Linked DNA regions of Homo sapiens: all the other regions are linked to region 1. Evidence: fine-mapped expression QTL. A gene starts in region 1. Each other region holds a variant in brackets. All regions are shown on one strand. Distances are from middle to middle. Region 1 holds the start of TAS2R5 (taste 2 receptor member 5). Region 2 overlaps WEE2 (WEE2 oocyte meiosis inhibiting kinase). Region 3 overlaps MGAM2 (maltase-glucoamylase 2 (putative)). Region 4 has its middle 5.3 kb from the start of TAS2R3.

The links.
Region 2: its variant is fine-mapped to the expression of TAS2R5 in spleen (GTEx, PIP 0.98).
Region 3: its variant is fine-mapped to the expression of TAS2R5 in nucleus accumbens (GTEx, PIP above 0.99).
Region 4: its variant is fine-mapped to the expression of TAS2R5 in whole blood (TOPMed, PIP above 0.99).

What each region holds. Positions count from the first base shown.
Region 1 is chr7:141,787,188-141,792,392 of GRCh38, reverse strand. TAS2R5 (taste 2 receptor member 5) reads right to left here and starts at 2,176. Exons shown (of 1, transcript NM_018980.3): 1 at 1,026-2,176. The coding sequence starts at 2,031. The coding sequence ends at 1,132. It also overlaps the pseudogene TAS2R6P.
Region 2 is chr7:141,713,510-141,718,714 of GRCh38, reverse strand. WEE2 (WEE2 oocyte meiosis inhibiting kinase) reads right to left here. Exons shown (of 12, transcript NM_001105558.1): 2 at 4,310-4,506; 3 at 2,448-2,493. The region is part of intron 3 of WEE2-AS1 (WEE2 antisense RNA 1); the gene reads left to right. Among named protein-coding and RNA genes, the nearest start is that of WEE2, 7.8 kb to the right of the region's middle. RefSeq lists a silencer at 3,400-3,600. The variant G/A (reference allele first, on the strand shown) is at 2,079.
Region 3 is chr7:142,152,333-142,157,332 of GRCh38, reverse strand. It overlaps MGAM2 (maltase-glucoamylase 2 (putative)), which reads right to left. Exons shown (of 48, transcript NM_001293626.2): 16 at 3,144-3,315; 17 at 2,488-2,604. Among named protein-coding and RNA genes, the nearest start is that of MGAM2, 43 kb to the right of the region's middle. The variant T/C (reference allele first, on the strand shown) is at 2,594.
Region 4 is chr7:141,756,173-141,761,377 of GRCh38, reverse strand. No RefSeq gene overlaps it. Among named protein-coding and RNA genes, the nearest start is that of TAS2R3, 5.3 kb to the left of the region's middle. The variant G/T (reference allele first, on the strand shown) is at 2,757.

The DNA.
Region 1 (5,205 bases):
CCCCACTTCAGTTCCTGGGCCTTGGAGCTTAATACAGATCATGGCATCCAACTGACTTTTATTCTGCTTTTTTTTTTTTTTTTGAGACGGCATCTCGCTCTGTTGCCCAGGCTGGAGTGCAGTGGCATGGTCTCGGCTCACTGCCATCTCCACCTCCTGGGTTCATGCCATTCTCCCGCCTCAGCCTCCCGAGTAGCTGGGACTACAGGTGCCCGCCAACACACCAGGCTAATTTTTTGTATTTTTAGTAGAGATGGGGTTTAATCATGTTAGCCAGGATGGTCTTGATCTCTTTTTTTTTTTTTTTTTGAGACGGAGTCCCGCTCTGTCGCCCAGGCCGGACTGCGGACTGCAGTGGCGCAATCTCGGCTCACTGCAAGCTCCGCTTCCCGGGTTCACGCCATTCTCCTGCCTCAGCCTCCCGAGTAGCTGGGACTACAGGCGCCCGCCACCGCGCCCGGCTAATTTGGTCTTGATCTCTTGACCTCGTGATCCGCCCGCCTCAGCCTCCCAAAGCGCTGGGATTACAGGCGTGAGCCTGATTTTTATTCTGAAAGCCAAGGCTAGGGCTCAAAGAAACTTCCAGAAATATAAAGATGTTTTGTTTTGTTTTTCAGTTAGATAATTAGATACATTACAGCAGAGAAATGGGGAAATTATTTGATACTTTTTAAAAAGCATATCTAAAATGACTAACATTAATGTATAGGTAAAATTTCATAAAAATTAATGATCACTATAATTGTTCCTAATCTCTGTTTTCTATACTAGGAAAAACACAATTTATATATGAATTTTTGCTATATGTAGACAGAATTGTTCCTAATCTCTGCTTTTTATAATAGGAAAAACACGATTTATATATGAATTATTTGCTATATGTAGAGAGAATATAATACCTCTTTTACCAAACATGAAGCCCTAGCCTTGATTTCTGTGGTACATTAAAAAAATATACTTTGCATTGCCAAAAGAGACATAGTATTGGGTTTTGATCCGTATTTTCTGTTGCTCATTCATTACATTGGTGTAAAAGAAGGAAAATCTTAAAAGACATGGAAAGCAGCTCCCTTATAGAGAGCTATCAAAAGAGCGTCCCAAGAGTGTCCTGACCACACTTTTCTTCCCAGATCATGGGCCCCAGCATCTCCGAGCACACACTGTCTTCCACAGGATCTTCTGACAAGTCTGCTTCACCCTAGGAATCCCCATGATCAATATGAGAGAATGAAGAGAAGGATAGGCTGCCATGAGTGTCTCCCAGATGAAGACACTGGTGAGATCAGGAGGATAAGTCTTGGAGGTGATGGAGAAGGGGCTGGCCATGATATAAACCAGGTGAAGTAAGAGGAAGCAGCCCAAGGACTTCAGCGCAGTGATGTGAGCCTTGGCCCGGACATCCCTCCTACCAGCTGAATGGACCTTCATCTTCTTGTGGTGTGTATACAAAGAGACAATCAGCATCCCAGAGGAAACAAGAAACACCACTAAAGGCAAATAACTTCCTGAATTGAGCTGAAATGCATACAGGTACTGCCAGCTTTCAAAGGGATACCGAATGCTGCTGTTTCCTTGGGGAGGATGATAGAATGTTAAGCCAATTTGGACTGTAAGTAACAAATTGATTATAAAGTAGCCCAGAAGGCACCAGAGACTCAGGTTATAGGCCCTCTGCTTCAGCCACAAGTAGGCCGGGCGATCGAAGGTCGTGATCTTCTTGCAATAGAAGACACTGAGGAAGGTGGCAAACCATAAGCTGGCCTGGCTTACCAGGACCCAGAAGATACTAAGATAGCGAAGCCAACGGCTGCTCTGGAAAAGTGGAAACAAGCTTAAGTCCAAAATGATCAGCCACTGCAGGAGAAATCGGCAGCCAGCCAGGCCCAGGATAATGAGGTTATATGAGGACCAGTTGAATTTTCTGATCCATTCTCTAAAACTCCAGACCACCAGGCTTCCATTTCCAATTAAACCGATGAGAAATTCAACCACTGCCACCAGCATCAGCAGTCCTAGGCCAGCGCTCAGCATGGCTGGGGAGAGGAGGCTCTCACTGCTCCTGGCTGAGGTCAGATCCCCTGGTAGTGATAACACACCAGGGTAAATTTTCACACCACAAAATCTGGATTTGGCCTCGTCCTTCCGTAATCTGTCTTCAAGCGAGACTGAACAGCTGTGATGAGGAACAGAGAGGTTGGAAGTTATGATACCATCTGTATTTGCATCTACATGAATGAACCCTGAGTGTAGAACCAGAGATTGCAAACAGTACCACAGACACCGGCTCTCCATCTCAAAGGTTTTGGGCCAAAGTCTAGACACCAGGGTATAACGTAACAAGGCCCCTCAACAAGAAAGACCAAATCAAAACATGCTCAGGTGCTATACAGTGCCAGTTATGAGCTCATATGCTATATAAAAAAAGAAATTTTATTTTCATGAAAAGAACACTGGGCCAGGCATGGTGGCTCACACCTGTAATCCCAACACTTTGAGAGGCCAAGGCGGGTGGATCACCTGAAGCCAGGAGTTCGAGACCACCCTGGCCAACATGGTGAAGCCCCATCTCTACTAAAAATACAAAAATTATCTGGGCGTGGTGGTGGCTGCCTGTAGTCCCAGCTACTCGGGAGGCTGAGGCAGGAGAACCACTTGAACCCAGGAGATGGAAGCTGCAGTGGGCCAAGATCGCGCCACTGCACTCCAGCCTGGGCGACAGAGCAAGACTCCATCTCAAAAAAAAAAAGTAAGCATGCTGAGAACTCTCTACGAAGCTGTAGGCAGGCAGGCCACTGCCCGTCTCTGGGCCTCAGTTGCTCTATTAATAACTGAATGGATTGTAGGATGAGATTTCCATTCCTTCGGACTAAATTTACAAAGTGCTTATTTTGTGTCAAACTACGGTGTACTAGGCACAGGGGACGGCGCCATTATAATACACAGTCCCTGCCTCCAGGTAGCATCCATTGTACATCATCTCCACCAAGCTGCAAGGCCTGGTACTCTAAAACTCTGGCTGTAGGCTATGGAGGGGCAGAGGTGGTCGCGATCTTCTACTGGACTAAAAATCTAGATGAGGCTTGAACTCGTCCAAAAACAGTGTTTCTTCAGTGACTTTCTGATAGAGACATAGTGCCTCTCTCTCCCCACCTGCCCCAATCTAGCCTGGCAGTGGAATTTGCCACCGATCCTGGTAGCCAACTGACACGTTTCCAGAAAGCTAGTCTGGCATCAAAAAAACCAAAGTATCCAGAAATATAAAGGTAGGTTTTTGACTACTTTACTACCGGTGTTGAGAGGCTAAACTACATAGAAAATTGAGATAATAATTTAGCTAATTCCCCTAAGAAAAGTGCTTGCCTAAAAAATATACAGGCTCACCTCTTTTTAAAATATATTATTTTCAAACTATAGCTATTTTCTACTTCCTTTTATCAAAAACATAGCATATTGGCAAAGAAAACTTGATTATCTGCAGTAATTTTTAAAAATGTGATACTTCCCATGCAAAATATGAAAACTCGGTTTTGACTTCTGTAGTTTATTAAAATGATGTGATTTGCATTGCTTAGAGAGCAATAAGCTCCAGTTTCTAGCCTGTTTTTCATGTTACCCTTTCATTTTGTTTCAAAATCAAAGAAGAAATGAGGAGAATTGAGAATAAAAATTTCATTTTTCTAAAATCTACAGTTATTTTTACTGTTGTCAGTGATACAGTTAAGGGCCTGATTAGATCCTTCTTCCAAGTCATGGCCTCTAGGATTTCCATGTACATATCATCTCCTACAGAATTCTCTGACAAGTCTGATTCCTCATAACCATTACAATAGACGGAAATGAAGTATAAACAGCCATGAGTGTTGCAGAGATGGCAAGAATGGTGAGATCAGAGGGAGATTAGAAGGTCATGGAAAAGTGTCTGGCCAAGGCAGAAACCATGTAAAGGGGGAAGTTCAGAGCGATGAGCACCTTGGTTTGAGCCTCCTCCTGACAGCTGTGTGGTCCTCCATCTTCCTGTGATGTCTTTACAAAAAGACAAGTGGAACAGAAACATCACAAATAGCAATCAGTCTCCTTCACTGGACAGCAATCTATAAAAATAACAGATTTAAAATGGGATGCAGGATGTTGCTGTTTCCTGTTAAGGGTTTTTAAAGGGTCCAGCCAACAAGAGCTGAGAAATAAAAAGTGATCTTGAAAGACACTAGCAAAAAACAAAAACCCAGTCTTTTCAGCTACAAGAAGTCAGCGGGACAAAGGTCATGATCTCCATGCAGCAGAAGCCACTGAAGAAAGTGGCAAACTACATGTTGGCCTGGCTTACCAGGACTCGAAGACATTAAGATAGTAAAGCCAACCACTGCTCTGGGAAAGTGGAAACAGACTTATGTCCAACATGATCGGCCTGAGTAGGAGAAAGTGGCTACTTACCAGAATCATGAGAATTTATAGGGACTCCTTACATTTTTTTGACCCATCCTCTAAAACTGCAGACCACAGGGACTCCATTTCCAACCAGGCCAATGAGAAATTCAGCCCCTGCAATGGGCATCAGCAATCCTAGGGCAGCCGCCAACATGGCTGGGGAGGGGAGGGTCTCTCTGCTGAATCAGGAGGTGCCCTGCTTCAGTGCTGATGAACACGTACTGCTGCTGGCTGTGTCAGAATCCCTGGGGACGGTATCAGTATTATGGCAGAGCATTTCACTTCTCACCACTCAGTTTTGTTACTGTCTGAAATCCCTTCTCTGGTAAAGATGTTACAGCTGTGACCAGAAGAAACGTTCTTGAAGGTAACGGTCCCACCGTCACTTACATCTACCTGACACTGGCCTGGGATCTGACATTAGGTACAGAGACACAATTACAGAATGGCCTTCCGAAGGAAAGAACTAAAATCCAGACAGCCTAGAGCACAGTCTCCTGAAATCCTACTTCCACCCGACCTAACTCCACAAAACCTAAGTAAGACAGTCTGAGAATTTAACAGTGGCAAATGCAAGGTACCTCATGTTATAAAAAGGGAAAGCATGGGCCGGGCGCGGTGGCTCACGCCTATAATCCCAGCACTTCGGGAGGCCGAGGCGGGTGGATCACTTGAGGTTAGAAATTCGAGACCAGCCTGGCCAACATGGTGAAACCCCATCTCTACTGAAAATACAAAAATTAGCCGGGCATGGTGGCACACACCTGTAGTCCCAGCTAC
Region 2 (5,205 bases), 74 kb after region 1:
AGCAAATTAAAAGAAATGAAAGACCCCCCTTCTTTATGTGTCTTAAAGTCTGAATGCTAATGTTTCCATCTCAAGCTGAATAAGCATACTTGTTTTCTGTTTCTTTTCCCAAAAATACCAGCCTGGAGAAATGATTTTGTCAAAATTGTCAAACTTTGACAATTTTGGTTAGTTCAGACTATGTGCTCAGGTCTAGCAACCACTCCCGCTACTGGCCAACTAGCAACATCATTCATTGCCCAGGTAGTAAATAACCCCAGGCCAATCTGAACTCCTTTCAGTTTTCCTATCTGTAGGATGAAGATCATGGCAACACTCTTCAGGGTTCTTTTAAATATTACATGAGAATATACAGTATTACATATATTGTAATATATCTTAGGATAGTGTCAAGTACATAGTAAATTCTCATTAAACTATTATGACCAAAAATCTCCATAAATTTATATGAATCTAAATCCAAGCTGATTTATCTCCCAAAGTCATCTTTTCTCAGTGTCCCAATCCTGAAGAATTTTTCTCCAACTTTATGAGTTTGAAAAATCTTGGGTTTTACTACTTCCTCATTTTCAACATCTAATTCTGGTCACTTTCATCAGCAAGATCTCTTAATTTTCATTACCCTTAGCCAGTCTCAAGCTCTGTTCCCTTCTTGTCTGGATTGGCTACAGCTACCAGCCCTCTCTTTAACTCTTCTAATAGTAAGAATTATTTTTGCAAAATGATACCACAGAATCAGAGATGCCTAATTGTTTCCCATGAGAAATTCAAACTCTTGATAAGAAAGCCTCAAGACCTTCTACCAACTGCGCACTCACTACTTGACTACCCTCCCCCTAGATACCAATGAAGCCAGTATACCATCTGCATCTATCCCTGACCACTCCCCACCCACCATACCCCTCTTACACCTGAACTCTGTTCTCCTGCCTTGATAGCATTAAAAGTTATTTACTTCCTTAGCCTAAAATTATCTTAATATACAATCTCTTCCTACCCAAGCTCTATTTCATAGAAGTATTTACTAACCACTTCTAGATTTTAAAGATATACACGCATATGTATATTCACATTGCACATATGTACATACACATATACACAAATACATATATCTCATAGCTTCTAATTTACATATAGATTGTTTTGAAATTTCAAAGGTTTTAACTCCTGTTTGGCCAGATGTTTTTCCTTAAAGGGTGTAACTAAATACAATGCTTTGCACTTATTTAATGTTCAATAAATATTAGAATTTCTATCTGAAATCAAGAGATAAATTATAAAATAAGTGAGGAATAAAATCCAACAGTAAAATAATGGAGGCATAAGTCAGAAACATTTGCATTTGAAGGAACACCTGTGCCAGTGGCCGCCTTTTCTGTGATGTTTACAATAGCCAAGTGCTAACATTTTAACATATTAACATATTTATTTACGCAAATAAAACTTGCTTCAGAAAACTTTAAAAATTTAAAGGAAAAACAAATATGAAGTTTCCACCATTCAAAAATGTTGAAATAGCAGTGGTTATAGCTCCATTTCATTCTCCCTGTGATTAATGTGCAATAGATAGTTATGGTCATTCAGCGTATAAAATTTTGAGTCTTTTGCACACTAAACATTAACATACGCATGTTTTCAAGGTGTTATAAACATCTTAATGGCAATTTAGTATTTCACTGACTTAAAACTGTAATTAGCTTAGCCATTTTTCTATTATCAGGCATTTGGTCTCCCCCCTTTTTTGCTGTTACAATAAACATCTCTAAGGATAATGTTTGCAGTATTATTTTCTTAGGTTAGATTATCAAATGAGGGATGGATCAAAGATTGTGAACATTATAAAATCAAATATTGATACATTTAAGAGCTAAAATTTTACATATAAATCTCTGGCTCTATGCCCCTTTTTTCCATTATCTTTTTCTATTTTGAGACCAAAAATATCTTAATTTTCCCTTCACTTCTCTACCCCATGAGTGTAGAGTTTTTCTCCAGATTAAAATAGTAGCAGAAATATGTAATTTTAAAATTACTCTAAAGTAATGATCCAGCATATACATATCAGACACTGCCTGGCA[G/A]AGTTACAACTAGCTGAGAACACAGACCCTGACTAGGGTCCAGATAAATTCAGCTGCAAAGCACATTTACAAAGCTAGCGTGTGAGATGGGGTGAGATGGGGAGGGGAGGAGAGAAGGAGAGTAGGAGAAAGGAGGGGAGGAGGGGAGATGGGGAAGAGAGGGCAGAAGGAGAAGGGCAGAAGGAGAGGGTAGAAGAAGGGGAGGGAGGGTGCAGGGTGAAGGAGAGGAGGGGAGGGTGAGGAAGGAGAAAAGGGAGGGTAGGGAAGAAGGGAGGAGGGAGGAGAGAGAGGGAGAAGGGGAGGGGAAGAAGAGAAAGAATAGGATAAACTGCCTATATTGTGGCCGCTGGGACAAAGAACTACGCTTACCTTGGCAGGCAGCCCTCCCTTGCCTTCCTCTGGACCAGCTTCCTCACTTAAAAAAGAAAAAAAAAGTTTATCAATATATAATTAATATTTATTGAGGCCGAACTATGCTAGGTTCTAGGGATGTAAGAGTAAATAAGACAATTCATTTCTCTTCGGTTTATATGTGGAGGCAGGGATAACCAGGAAATTTCAATACAAGAACCTAGAACTGGATAAGATAACAAGGATACCATGGACAGCACTCAATTATTTCAAGAGTGAAAAGCTTTCCCAGAAGAGAGAATATATAAGCCAAGATTCTGGGAACGAGTAGGAACTAGCTAAGGGAAAAGAGTGAGGTTTTCAGCAGGTAAAACACCATGTGCTGGAGCAAGAGAGCACAGAACATATGTGCAACTGTTAAATGGGTATCTTTATCCCCAAACTAGGAAACCAAGACAGAGAGAGGTTAAATAACTCTAGGTCAAACAATTAGCAAGTGGCAGAACTGGGACTTGGAGCCAGGTCTGACACCAAAGCATTTGCTCCTCACTGCCACACCACACTCTCTTTCCGACACCCACCCCTCCCCTAGAATCTGGCTTTGTAATCGGTTCACAGGTAGACTGCAAGTAGGGCAGAATCTGCTCTAACCCGGGATGAGATATTTTCAATTACTCTTCGATAAGCTAAGTGACCAGCAGACATCCTCTTTGCCATGCATACTTGTATTCTGGATCCTTAAGCAAGATTTCAACTAGCTATAGATTTTTCTTTTGGAGAAACACAAGGTAGAAATGGCAAATGGAAGGCACTACATTCATGGAAATAAATCAATGCTTGGTATTTGTGATTTAGTACCACATTGTAATACTTTATGAAGTGTTTATAAATTATAAAAATAAGGAAAAATACTCTCTTAGAAGCACCAAATGACGCTACAAAAGTGTCAGGATTTCATATTAGCTGTCTTTGTTGCTGGCTTCGGTGAGAGTATAATGATTTACAGAGACTCCTTAAGAACTAAAACCAATCGAATTCTTGGTAGCCAAAGTAGGTGGGTGGACTTGTGCTGAAGTCCTGTTTATTTAAGTAAGAAGGAGATAGTGTTGAGAGAACCTATTCTGGTCAAAGACTGATTAACACATACTCATTGACTCCAAAGAAACAACTTGACATAGCACATTAAATGCTCTGCAAAGTTTACATTGTTAGCTGTCCATTTATTTCGCTGAGTACATATGAACATAAATGACTGCCCCACTTTGGAGGCGATTCCATTCTATAAAAAAGCCTTGGAGAGACATAGTAATGTTCCTGAGTAATATGCACAATCCTTATTTGGATGATTTCTGTCATTCAGGGCCCTTTATGGAATAGTACAGTTTGGCTTTCTATTCTTTAGCAGCTCTGAAAGCAATGCTTTTTTGCTTCAGCCAATCTTCCATCACCCACAGAGAAGTTCAAATCCTTGCTCTATAGCTTTCATCACTAGTCACACAAGACTCAAAGCAGCAACGTACTCTTTGAAGTTTGAGCTACACGTTCCCCAACTGCCAGCCTCATATTAACCAGAGGGGACCCCTTGAATGCAATTCCATAGCCCACTCAACTTCCTAATAGAAGCCAGAGATCTATTGCTTATTCTGTCTTATCCTTTTATAGAGAAAGCATCTACAGTACATATCAGAATGGAAAGATGTTGGAATCTCTGTGATAAAGCAGGTAAAACCAGCATTGATATCTAGGAAGGGGAGAATATGTAAGCATATACATTTCATTCAAATAGAGTTCTCGTTCCTAATCTTACTTTAACACTCACTTCTTACTACTTGACTGTAGTAGGGTCAGTTCTCAAAAGTCATAAGTAATAGAGCACTTACAGATCTCCTCTTATTTTCCTCTTGCCACCAGATTGAAGAAATAATTTTTTATAGGACTCTGGAGTGAAGGGATTAATATTGACCAGAGCCAATGAGGTCATCTCATCCTTGAGGGGAGCAGGTGTGAGCTTCAAATGCTTAGGGCCTCTGGAAGGAAGCTTCCCTGTTGGAGAAATCACCAACCGGCTCAGCATGGTCTGAATGAGGATGACAAAAGGCAAGTCATAATAGCATTAGTAAAGACATTCCTTATCAGTTAGCTAGTTAATATTTGAATCTAAGAATGCTTTTGCTGAAGGGGCCTTAGAAATTATCTGGTTCCATGTGAACTGGTTGCATTGTAACTGCTCCTCTTATGAAAACTATAGAATCCCAGTCTCTACCTCTAGATATTCTGATTCATGAAGTCAACACAGGAATCTGTACTTTAGTCAAGCTCCAACCCCTTCCCCTGGGCAATTCTGTTAGCTAGCTATGAAAACCAGTTGTAGTCCTATCTCCAGTTTTTAAAGACATGGACATTAAGTTTAGACAAATAAAAATGACTATATTCTCAGAGCTTATGCTTTAACTTCCCCTCAATTATTCATCCAAATATTTGTTTGGTGCCTACTATGTAGCAGATGCTGGGTTAGATGCCAAGTGGTACAGAAGTGAATTCTAAATCTTAAGGAATATATAGTTCATTATTCAGCAGTTCATCAGTGTTTCAGAAATAATCACCTTGTAAGGAAAAGATTTCATAGACTATTTAAACATGAAAAAAGTTTTTAATTTCACTTAAAATAAAGCACTAACTGAGAAGTGCTTCATGAAGTGCGGTAATGAGATTGAAAATTAGTACTCTAAGCCCTTAAGATTCAGATCTTTGCAGTGGCTACAACCAGCTACCAACA
Region 3 (5,000 bases), 370 kb before region 1:
GGTTGCCATGGAGATAAAGTGGGACTTGCTCCCTCCAGGGTTGCTCCAATTTATTTTACATATTGAGGTTTCTCATATTTTATTTGGGAAATAATATAAGTTGTACTACTACTAAAAAAAAATCCATTGCCTTATAAGCCACATTGCCTGCCACCATGGTCTGTAATCCATCATTTCCTTTCCATGTGCTTGTATGAATTTTAATTTTAACATTTTTTGTCCAGTTTTATCTGTAATGTTTCCACCATCAACATTTGTTTTATTTTCCCTATCCCAAAGATTAGTGACCTCTATTTGTTCTTTGACATACATTGTGCAAATAAATTATGACGATGGTTTTTAGCAGATTTTATCCAAGAGTAAAAAAATAACCCATTAGAAGAAAAATCTAATTTTCCATGGACCCAGAGATGAAAATTTTCCGTCAATGGTCGGCATTCATTTTGTTCATTTTCCATATAATTTGGAAGATGTGAAAGACATACACGTCATCTTTTGACTTGTCATCCTATACTGCGTTACTGAGACTGAGTTTTGGATAAAGTTACCTGAACTTTTTTTTCTTTTGCTCCCTAAGAGGCCCATTTCTCCCCCTCTAAATAGAATGACTCCATGAGACCACTCTATGCACCCAGTGTAGGGCTCATGAAAACTCTGAGGCCAAACATTAAAGAGAGTAACACTCCACAGCCTCCATCACCCTGGTTGTCAACTGACAAAAGCCCAGAGCTGTGCTGTCCACTATGGTGGCCATGAACCACATGAAGCTATTGAACACTTGAACTATGTTTATTGAGACTGAGGAAGTAAACTTTCCATTTTATTTGATGATAGTTACTTTAAATATAAATCTTAAAACTGAATCAACGTAAATTTTTTTTCCATTAAACCAACTTTATTGCTTTGGTAGAATTGCATTTTACTTCAACTGCATACAAAAAATCTTAGCATACAAATTGCGATATGCTACAAGTGTAAAATGCATACCAAATTTTGAAGACCTAGTAGAATGAAAAGGATATAAAATAGCTCATTAATAATATTTTGTATTAAACACAGGTTGAAATGATAATGCTATGTAATATACAGACACACACACACATATAGATACACATTGAGCTATATAAAGTATTTTTAAAACAATGTCCCTGTTTCTTTGTACTTTGTTTTTTTTTTTGTTTTGTTTTGAGACGGAATTTTGCTCTCGTTGCCCAGGCTGAAGTGCAATGGCGCGATCCCAGCACACCACAACCTCTGCCTCCCCGGTTCAAGAGATTCTCCTGCCTCAGCCTCCCAAGTAGCTGGGATTACAGGCATGCGCCACCACACCCAGCTAATTTTGTATTTTTAGTAGAGATAGAGTTTCTCCATGTTGGTCAGGCTGGTCTCAAACTCCGGACCTCAGGTGATCCTCCCACCTTGGCCTCCCAAAGTGCTGGGATTACAGGTGTGAGCCACCGTGCCCAGCCTTTTTGTACTTTTCAAATTTAAACTGACATATGTGGCTCTCCTTATAATTTTATTGAATAGAGCTAGTTTAATCAAAAGGACATACGTGCTTAAACCTAGCTTCCTGGGTTATCTGAGTGTTCTTACCTATGTAAGTCTTCCAGGACACAGCTTCATGAAGAGCACCCACCCACCTGCTCCCAGCCACCTGCTTAAGACATTTAGAAATAGTTCATCTCTCTCTAGATCACAAGTGGCCAGAAAAGCCCAGGGATAAAATACTTTGAAGGTTTGACTGTTAATCCTTCCTGGGTTAAAGACAAAGTCAAGAATTGGAGCTAAAATTATCATTAGGAAGTTATTCTAATGAACCTATTAAGAGCTAAACCACTCAATTGGAAATATTTCAACTTAAGATTACTTTATTAAAAGAAAGGACATCTCACCCTACTTGCTTCTGCTACCATCATAAACACCTCCTTAGGGGGGACTTTGAACCCACTTCCATGTACTTGCCCATCGAAAATACTATTTTGGGTAGACGAGCCTAAAGGTGGAATGAGTCATGAGAAGTAGTTGGCAAGTCCTCCAAACTCTTCATAGAAAGGTAGAATGTTGTAACAAGGGGAAAGAAATGTTGAGATCACTGGCCTAAGCCTCTTTAAATTCTTTCTCCTTGTTCCTCCATACCTATGAGGGATTTCCCTTGTATTAACTGAAATAAAATACCAACAAATTCCAATTGTCCTATCCTATATAGGATAGAACAGAAGTCATGGCAGCACCATAGAAACTTTAACAAATCTTCTCACTTTGTTGGTGAGTTTCCAAGAATAAAATCTTTCAGTATATACATATCCCTTCCAATGCACCCTCACCTTGATTGATACCCTGCTTTTTAAGGCTATGATACAAGACTTTTTTATCCTTCTGCTGCAGTTAGTGCCAACCTGTAGTACTATTTTCCTCAAATCCCCTTTAAGAGCCAGTAGATTAGCTAATCCAAAAAGTTTCCATCACTTCTTTTGGTGACCTTACCCTGAACCCAGGCCCATTGTGATTCCTTGGTAGTGGATAAAATGCTCCAAGCTGCATCCACCTTCTGCAGAGCTCCTCTGTGACATTGTTGTTATAACCACAGATG[T/C]TGGCACCTACCTGGAGAATTAGCACACATACAAGCACTGTGGTCAATGAGAGGCGAAAGCATGTAGTGAAGATTTATATGATAAGGGAAAAGAGAACCTCTTTGTCACATCATCCCATGCTTAAGGAGATCCCAGAGTCACAGGGCACACTCCCAGCCAAAGGAGAGAAACAAGATAGAATCCATCACGGACTTACTGATAGTGCAAACAATGGTCCTTGTGTTGAGGCTGTTCCTTAATATTCAGTTCCCAATTTCATACTTTCTTATTTACTAATGCTCTCTTGATGGAATTTTCCTGTGATACTAATACATTTTATTCATGCTGTCTCCTTCCTATCTTCAGAGATTCCATGGATGACAACTCAGTGATAAAGTACTACCATTCTATCTTCAGAAGGCAGCTCACGTAACACATAAAAATTGATCTTTCCAATACATATCACCTTGGAACATGATCCTTGGTTTTTCAGATAATCTCTAAGACTGCTAATTAAAAGAATGTCAACAGACAAAGGGTTAAAGTTCCCTGGTTGGAAATAAGGCTCACCATGGGGATGCCAAACAGGTTGAACTCAAGGATAGTGGGGATAGACCATCGGAGGTCATCCCATGTGGCCGCATTGTCCCCCAGCCAATGAGCAGCAAATTTGCCAGATCCAGCAAAAGTAGAACGGGATAAGATGAAGCTCCTATTATTCATGAAGATGGTCTCCAGGGCTCTGGAAAGGAATACATCCAGTGGAGTGTGAGGTGGGCTGTGAATGTCTAGGACTCACCTTACAATAAGAGCAGCAATGGACTTTCTAACCAAACTGAGAAAACAACATGAGGGTGTCATAAACCAGGTGTCATAAACTTAGTACTATCTAAGAGCTTCTTTCCCATTTTGGGGTAAGATTTCAGATCTCATATAAGACAGTACAAACCTCTATATTCTAGCCCCCATAGCAATTTCTCTAGGCTTCCGTTCCCCGATTTTGTTTTCTCTGTCTAGTTGGATCTGGTTGTGGTCTGGTCCTTTTGGTCAACAGTATATTGGAACCATGATTTGAGTTCCTTGTCCCATCTTTTTTCTAATGTCCTTTGGTTCCATGAATTTCTGCCATGCATAATCCTGTACAGCACAGCACCTGCTCCGATGGGAGCTCTGCACCCTCTGCTGGACTAAGAGGAGAGTTCATGCACCAGCTGGTACACCTCTGAAACTTCAGAACTTATCCCTGGCTTCCTCTGAAACTTCAGACTTATTCTTAGCAATTCTCAATGTTAGCAAATTTTAATCTATGCAAAATAAGAGTCATTGAAATGAGTAAGTCTCAAAAGATCGCATCTGATACTTTCTATAAAGTTAAAAACAACTAACATAGAAAATATTATTTTCATTGTATTATAAATAAAATATTACATGTTACGTAAAACAATATAGAAATGAAAGCAGGCCGGGCGCGGTGGCTCACGCCTATAATCCCAGCACTTTGGGAGGCTGAGGCGGGTGGATCACGAGGTCAGGAGATCGAGACCAACCTGGCCAACATGGTGAAACCCCATCTCTACTAAAAATACAGAAGTTAGCTGGACATGGTGGTGTGCGCCTGTAGCTCCAGCTACTCATACTCAGAAGACTGAGGCAGCAGAATCGTTTGAACCCAAGAGGCAGAGGTTGCAGTGAGCCAAGATCGTGCCACTGCACTCCAGCCTGGGCGACAGAGCAAGGCTCTGTCTCAGACAAAAAAAAAAAAAAAAAGGAATAAAAGCAAAGAAATTAAAAGCACAGAATTCAGAATGGTAATTACTTCAGGGGCACAGATGAACATACAGTGGGGTGACCTATGGTTGGATGTGGGCTGTTTGCCTAGCTTTTATTCTGGACACCTTTTGAATAGGCATTTTATTGAAATGACTCTCCTCTTTTCTTTTTTCCCCCCTGTGGTAAAAAGCCCACATCTTCCATTAGAATTATAAAATTGAACAATAATACAATTAAAGGACAGTAAGACCTGAGCCACGCCACAGTTTCTGCCAGCTCTTCGCAGGCAAGCTCTTCTTTCCCGCTTTCTAATACATGGTCTGAGACAAGTGTATCTTTTCCTAAAACCTCTCTCTGCAAGTCTTTATCACCAGGCACCAGGCAATTCCTCAATACACTATCACAGTCACCAAGGCCTCCTCACTTCATTTTCCTGGGAAGTTTGGAGAGTCTATAAATACTGAATGGCTTATAATGGCAAAAGGGAGAAAATTTTGAAACGGAAAACTGCTTTAAGAAAGTAAAGGGCTTCATTCTGACAATTTACTGTCAAAAATAGGGGTAGGTTGGAGGAGAGGACTCACTCAACTCCTATCCCCACTTCTACTTTAATGTAGACTGGCCGACACTTTGCTTTTATTACCACTGGCTGCAGGT
Region 4 (5,205 bases), 31 kb after region 1:
CTAGCACAGGGTCCAGCACAAAATTGGTACACAATTACTATTTGTCAAATCAACTTGAATCCCAAACGCCCCTCAAGTCACCTCTCATCCCCATTCTTGCTAACCTTTCTAGGCTTATTAGAGCTTCCTAACTGCCTCTAGGCTTTCTCCTTCTAGCCCTTCACTCTGTCTTTGTTGTTCTCCTAACGCACAATTCTGATAAGATGTCCTTGTTTTCAAACCTTCTATTGCTCCCCATTGCCAAAGTTCTCTGAAAGCTTTCAAGGCCCTTTACTATCTAGCCCCAACCCACTTTCCATGCCTCACCTTTGTTTCATAAACTTTTGTTTCTGGATCTTTGCTCATGCTGTTTCCTCTGCTGAAAGCTCACCTATCCATTCTCTTCTAAGCTACTCCTCACACCCTATCACAGTTAGCTATAAAAGTTTCTGCTTATCCTCCCTAACCCCTCATAAGCTTAATTGTGAATTCCTTCAGTGCAGGAATCCTGTTATATACATCCCTACATTCAGGTCCTATATGGGTGCATGATATATAGAAGATGCCCAACTGAACCTTATATTTAAGAGAAGGAGAGCATAATGGTTTGGAAAATGTGCAGCCTGACCATGTGGTAGAAAAGAAAAACCAACTTTCTGAGGAGGAATTCAAGCTGGCTGAAGAAATTTGCATAAGTAACAAGGAGCCGAATGTTAATAGTCAAGACAATGGGGAAAATGTCTCTAGGGCATGTCAAAGACCTTCTTGGCAGCCCCTCCTATCACAGGCCCAGAGGTCTTGGAGAGAAAAATGGTTTCCTGGGCCAGACCCAGGGCCCAACTGCTCTGTGCAACCTCGGGACTTGGTTCCATGCATCCCAGTGGATCCAGCACCAGCCACGGCTAAAAGGAGCCCTCAAGGAGAACTTCTGCTATGGCAGTGTGGAAGGAAAATGTGGAGTTGTAGCCCCTGCACAGGGTCCCCACTGGGGCATTGCCTAGTGGAGCTGTGAGAAGGGGGCACCCATCCTCCAGACCCCAGAAAGGTAGATACACTGACAGCTTGCACCAAGTGCCTAGAAATGCTGCAGGCATTCAACACCAGCCCATGAAAGTGGACACAGGGGCTGTACCTTGCTGAGCCACAGGAACGCAGGGGCAGCTGCCCAAGACCAAGATTGTTGGAGCCCACCTCTTGCATCAGCATGCCCTGGGGTGGCCTACATGTGAGACGTGGAATCAAAGGAGATGATTTCAGAGCTTTAAGATTTAACGACTGCTCTGCCGGGTTTTCAGACCTGCATGAGGCCTGTAGCCCCTTTATTTTGGTCAATTTCTCCCATTTGGACTGGAAACATTTGCCCAATGCCTGTACCCTCATGGTATCTTAGAAGTAACTAATTTTATTTTACAGGCTCATAGGTGGAAGGGACTTGGCTTGTCTTAGATGAGACTTCGGACTTGGACTTTTGAGTTAATGCTGGAATGAGTTAAGACTTTGGGGGACTGTTGAGAAGGTATGATTGGTTTTTAAATGTGAAAAGGACATGAGATTTGGGAGGGGCTGGGGCAGGATGATATGGTTTGGTTATGTCCCCACCCAAATCTCATCTCAAATTGTAATCCCCACGTGTCAAGGTAGGGACCTGGTAGGTGACTGGATCATGGGGGTGGTTTCCCCTGTGCTGTTGTCCTGATAGTGAGGGAATTCTCCCCAGATCTGATGGTTTTAAAAGTAGCAGTTTCCCCTGTGCCCTCTCTCTCCTGCTGCCTTGTGAAGAAGGTGCCTGCTTCCCCTTCACCTTTTGCCACGACCATAAATTTCCTGAAGCCTCCCCAGCCATGCGGAACTGTGAGTTAATTAAACCTCTCGTTTATAAATTACCCAGTCTCACGTAGTATCTTCATAGCAGTGTGAAAACAGACAAATACAGTTGGTTGCGGGAATCTGTGGATACGGAGGGCCAGTGGAGAATGAATGCAAGTGGAGGCAGGCATTGGGCAGAAAGCAAAATGCAAACTTCACATACCTGAGTTCAACCTCCAGGTGTGCATCCTGGAAGATGCATGACTTTGACAAGTTATTTAACCTCTCCCAGTTTTGGGTTTCCTCACCTGTAAAATGGGATTATTGTACCTTCTTCTTAGGATAATGGCTAAATGAGACAATGATAAAAAGTACTTAGCTTAGCTCGGTACATAGTAACCAGAAGAGAAATGACAGTCATTAATATGATTATTGTTACATCTTTAAGAGATTTCCCTGTAATTCATTAACCTTGGACTTGCCTCTCATTTTCCACAACGATTTTCTTGCTGTTACTCCCACAAATCTTCACAGAATATTATGCAAACTCTAACAGAAAAATAGCAAGGTGATCCTGCCCTCATTTTCTTTTCAAGTCCCACCTAACCGAATGACAAACATTTATCAATCTCCATGTCACTGTGTGAGGCTGAGTTAGATTGGGGAAAAAGGGTGGTTTTAGTAAAAGAAAACCCTGCCTTCAAGAATTGCCATGATCTCATTAGGGAACAAAGGGAAAACAGCACTAATTTCTCCTAACTTGGCTGCAAAAGTTAGGCTGTAATCCACATTGCAATGACAAGTAATTCCTAAAGAAATGTATACTCTATTGCCAAAACTGCCACAGAAATATATCTTTGGTGTTTTTGGATCATCTTTGAATAAAATGTCCAGTGTGTTTTAAGAAATGATTGATTCTTTGAGAACTGTAAAGGCAGCAAACAGTAGATCTCATATAGGTTGGTTTTTTT[G/T]TTTGTTTGTTCGTTTTGTTTTTGAGATGGAGTCTGGCTCTGCCGCCCAGGCTGGAGTACAGTGGTGTGATCTCGGCTCACTGCAAGCTCCGCCTCCTGGGTTCATGCCATTCTCCCACCTCAGCCTCCCCAGTAGCTGGGACTACAGGCGCCCACCACCACACCCAGCTAATTTTTTGTATTTTCAGTAGAGACGGGGTTTCACCATGTTAGCCAGGATGGTCTCGATCTCCCGACCTCGTGATCCACCCGCCTTGGCCTCCCAAAGTGCTGGGATTACAGGCATGAGCCACTGCGCCTGGCTAGGTTGGTATTCAAAGTAAATCATTTTGGGCTGTGTACACGTATTAACAGATGAATGAATTATAAAAGCATGAGATGCTAAAATACAGATAGTGGGGGAAAATATATAAAAGATTTTCTCATTCATATCCAGTAAAGTGGTACTCACTAAAAGTGAATGAGTAAATTAGTCTGGCTCAGAAATAATGGAAAGGTTTTTTTCCCCAGATAAAAAGTTTTATTTTTTTATTATAAAAGTAATATATGTTCAATGCTAAAATATATATTTAAAAAACTGTAAAGAAACAAGGAAAATCACGCATAATCACCCTCTCTAGAGATAATAACATCCTCATGTTTCTCCCTCCAGACATTAAGCCTATCTTCATTACAACTTCTTTTTCAAAAATGGGATACCCCAGACATACTGTTTGAAACTTTTTCTCCCATTCTTCTAGGTATACTATTCATCTTACCATTTAACAGGAAACTCCAAATCGAGGTCACAGTGCAGTTTTCTGAGGTTTATTCCCTGACACTATCACATCAAAAAGGGAAATGCAAGACCCAAAACTTGGGTTAGAAGACCCCTAGTCTTTTACTGCTATTTACTGCTATCATATTTCCAAATGCGCTCTTCCTAGACCAGCTAGGGAGCAGGAGAAAGTTTCTCAGCAGATAGGGCTTCCCAGGGGTAGGCAAAGTTTCCCTAGCAAGTCTGACTGACTTGAGGCGAGAATCATTCTGCTAGAATCATACGCATGCTGAAGACTGCATGCTACACACCTAAGTCTGATAAAGCACCACTGCTTCAGCTCCACAGCCTTTCAGAGGCATGGAGAGAAGAGGCAACCTCCAGGGGAGAGTTTAAAGCAGAGCCCCTCGGCTCACAATGATCCAGCACAGCATCCTCTTCCACCCCTGCATTCAGGGCTGAGAAACTGCTCCAGGTTGGTAATTAAGCTCTTCTGTTCACCATGTCATTTTCCCAAAGCAGAGATTTATTACCCTGCTTAAACAGGACTGTTAATCTGCATAATTTCTCACAACACTTAAGGAGTATAAAAGCTGCTGTGCTGATAGAAGAAAGAGTTGCTAAAAAGATAAATTTTATATACTGCCCAATTTTGCTTAAGGAATGTGGCATGAAGGAATAAAGACTACATCACCAGGCAGTTTTAATGTGTGAACTTAAGAGAGCAGAGTTAATATGCTGATTAACTGTCCCAGCTGCAGGAAAAAGAAAGATGGCTGGCAGGAGAAAACAGCAATGAATTTTCTACTGTTCCTGAGCAAGGAGAGGATAAAGCTAAAAAATTCCATCTTTCCTCAACCAAAATGCATTGTAGGTATAAAAAAAGCTACTCAAGTGTGCAGAAAATACCTTAAAACAAAAAAGTCACAGACCTATAACATAGCTTGGGAATTCTGAACCTAATAAAGTCCAATATGACCTAAGCTACAGTTAGCACTGTACTCGTACTCTCAGGCAGAGAGGACAGAACATGTAGGCTGGGAAGCAAATATATAGGCTGGGTCAGAGGCCAAACTGGAGACAGAGTGGCCTAGACAGTACGAGAGACTTCTACCATTTGAACAAAACAACCTGCACAGTGGCAGCCAACCTCTGGGATACAGCAGCAAACTGGCAGGCAGACCTCGGGAGGGCTGATGTAAACTTTAAAGAGCAAAAGATGCACTGAAAAACTGAGTTACTATTTCATCTTTATTGGCAAATTATTAGTATTCTAAAATTTCCTGAATCTTGTAATAAAAAGTAAGATTACATGATGTACATAATGATTCATGTGGAAAAATAAAAGGAAAATGTAGGACCTAAGGCTCTAAGGGAGGCACTGACAGAGGTTGTTAAGAGGATCCTCTTCTACCTTCCCCAAGAGTTCTGAAGAAGACTCTAAAAGGATAGATAAGAGGGGCAGAGAAAGATAGAATAGAACCACAGCTCCTGTGGCATCACCTGGAGATGAACGATTTCATCTCTAGTTATATTTCAGGTCCTTATTGCTGGTAAACTATGTTTCATCAATGCTAGTAATGAAACTGTCCAAAAACAAAAGATATGAAGAAGGTAGGTTAGTCTTAAAGATGTTTAGGTTAGACACTAACCACTGCTCAGCAACCCCCTTCAATTTGAACTGAAGCTTAG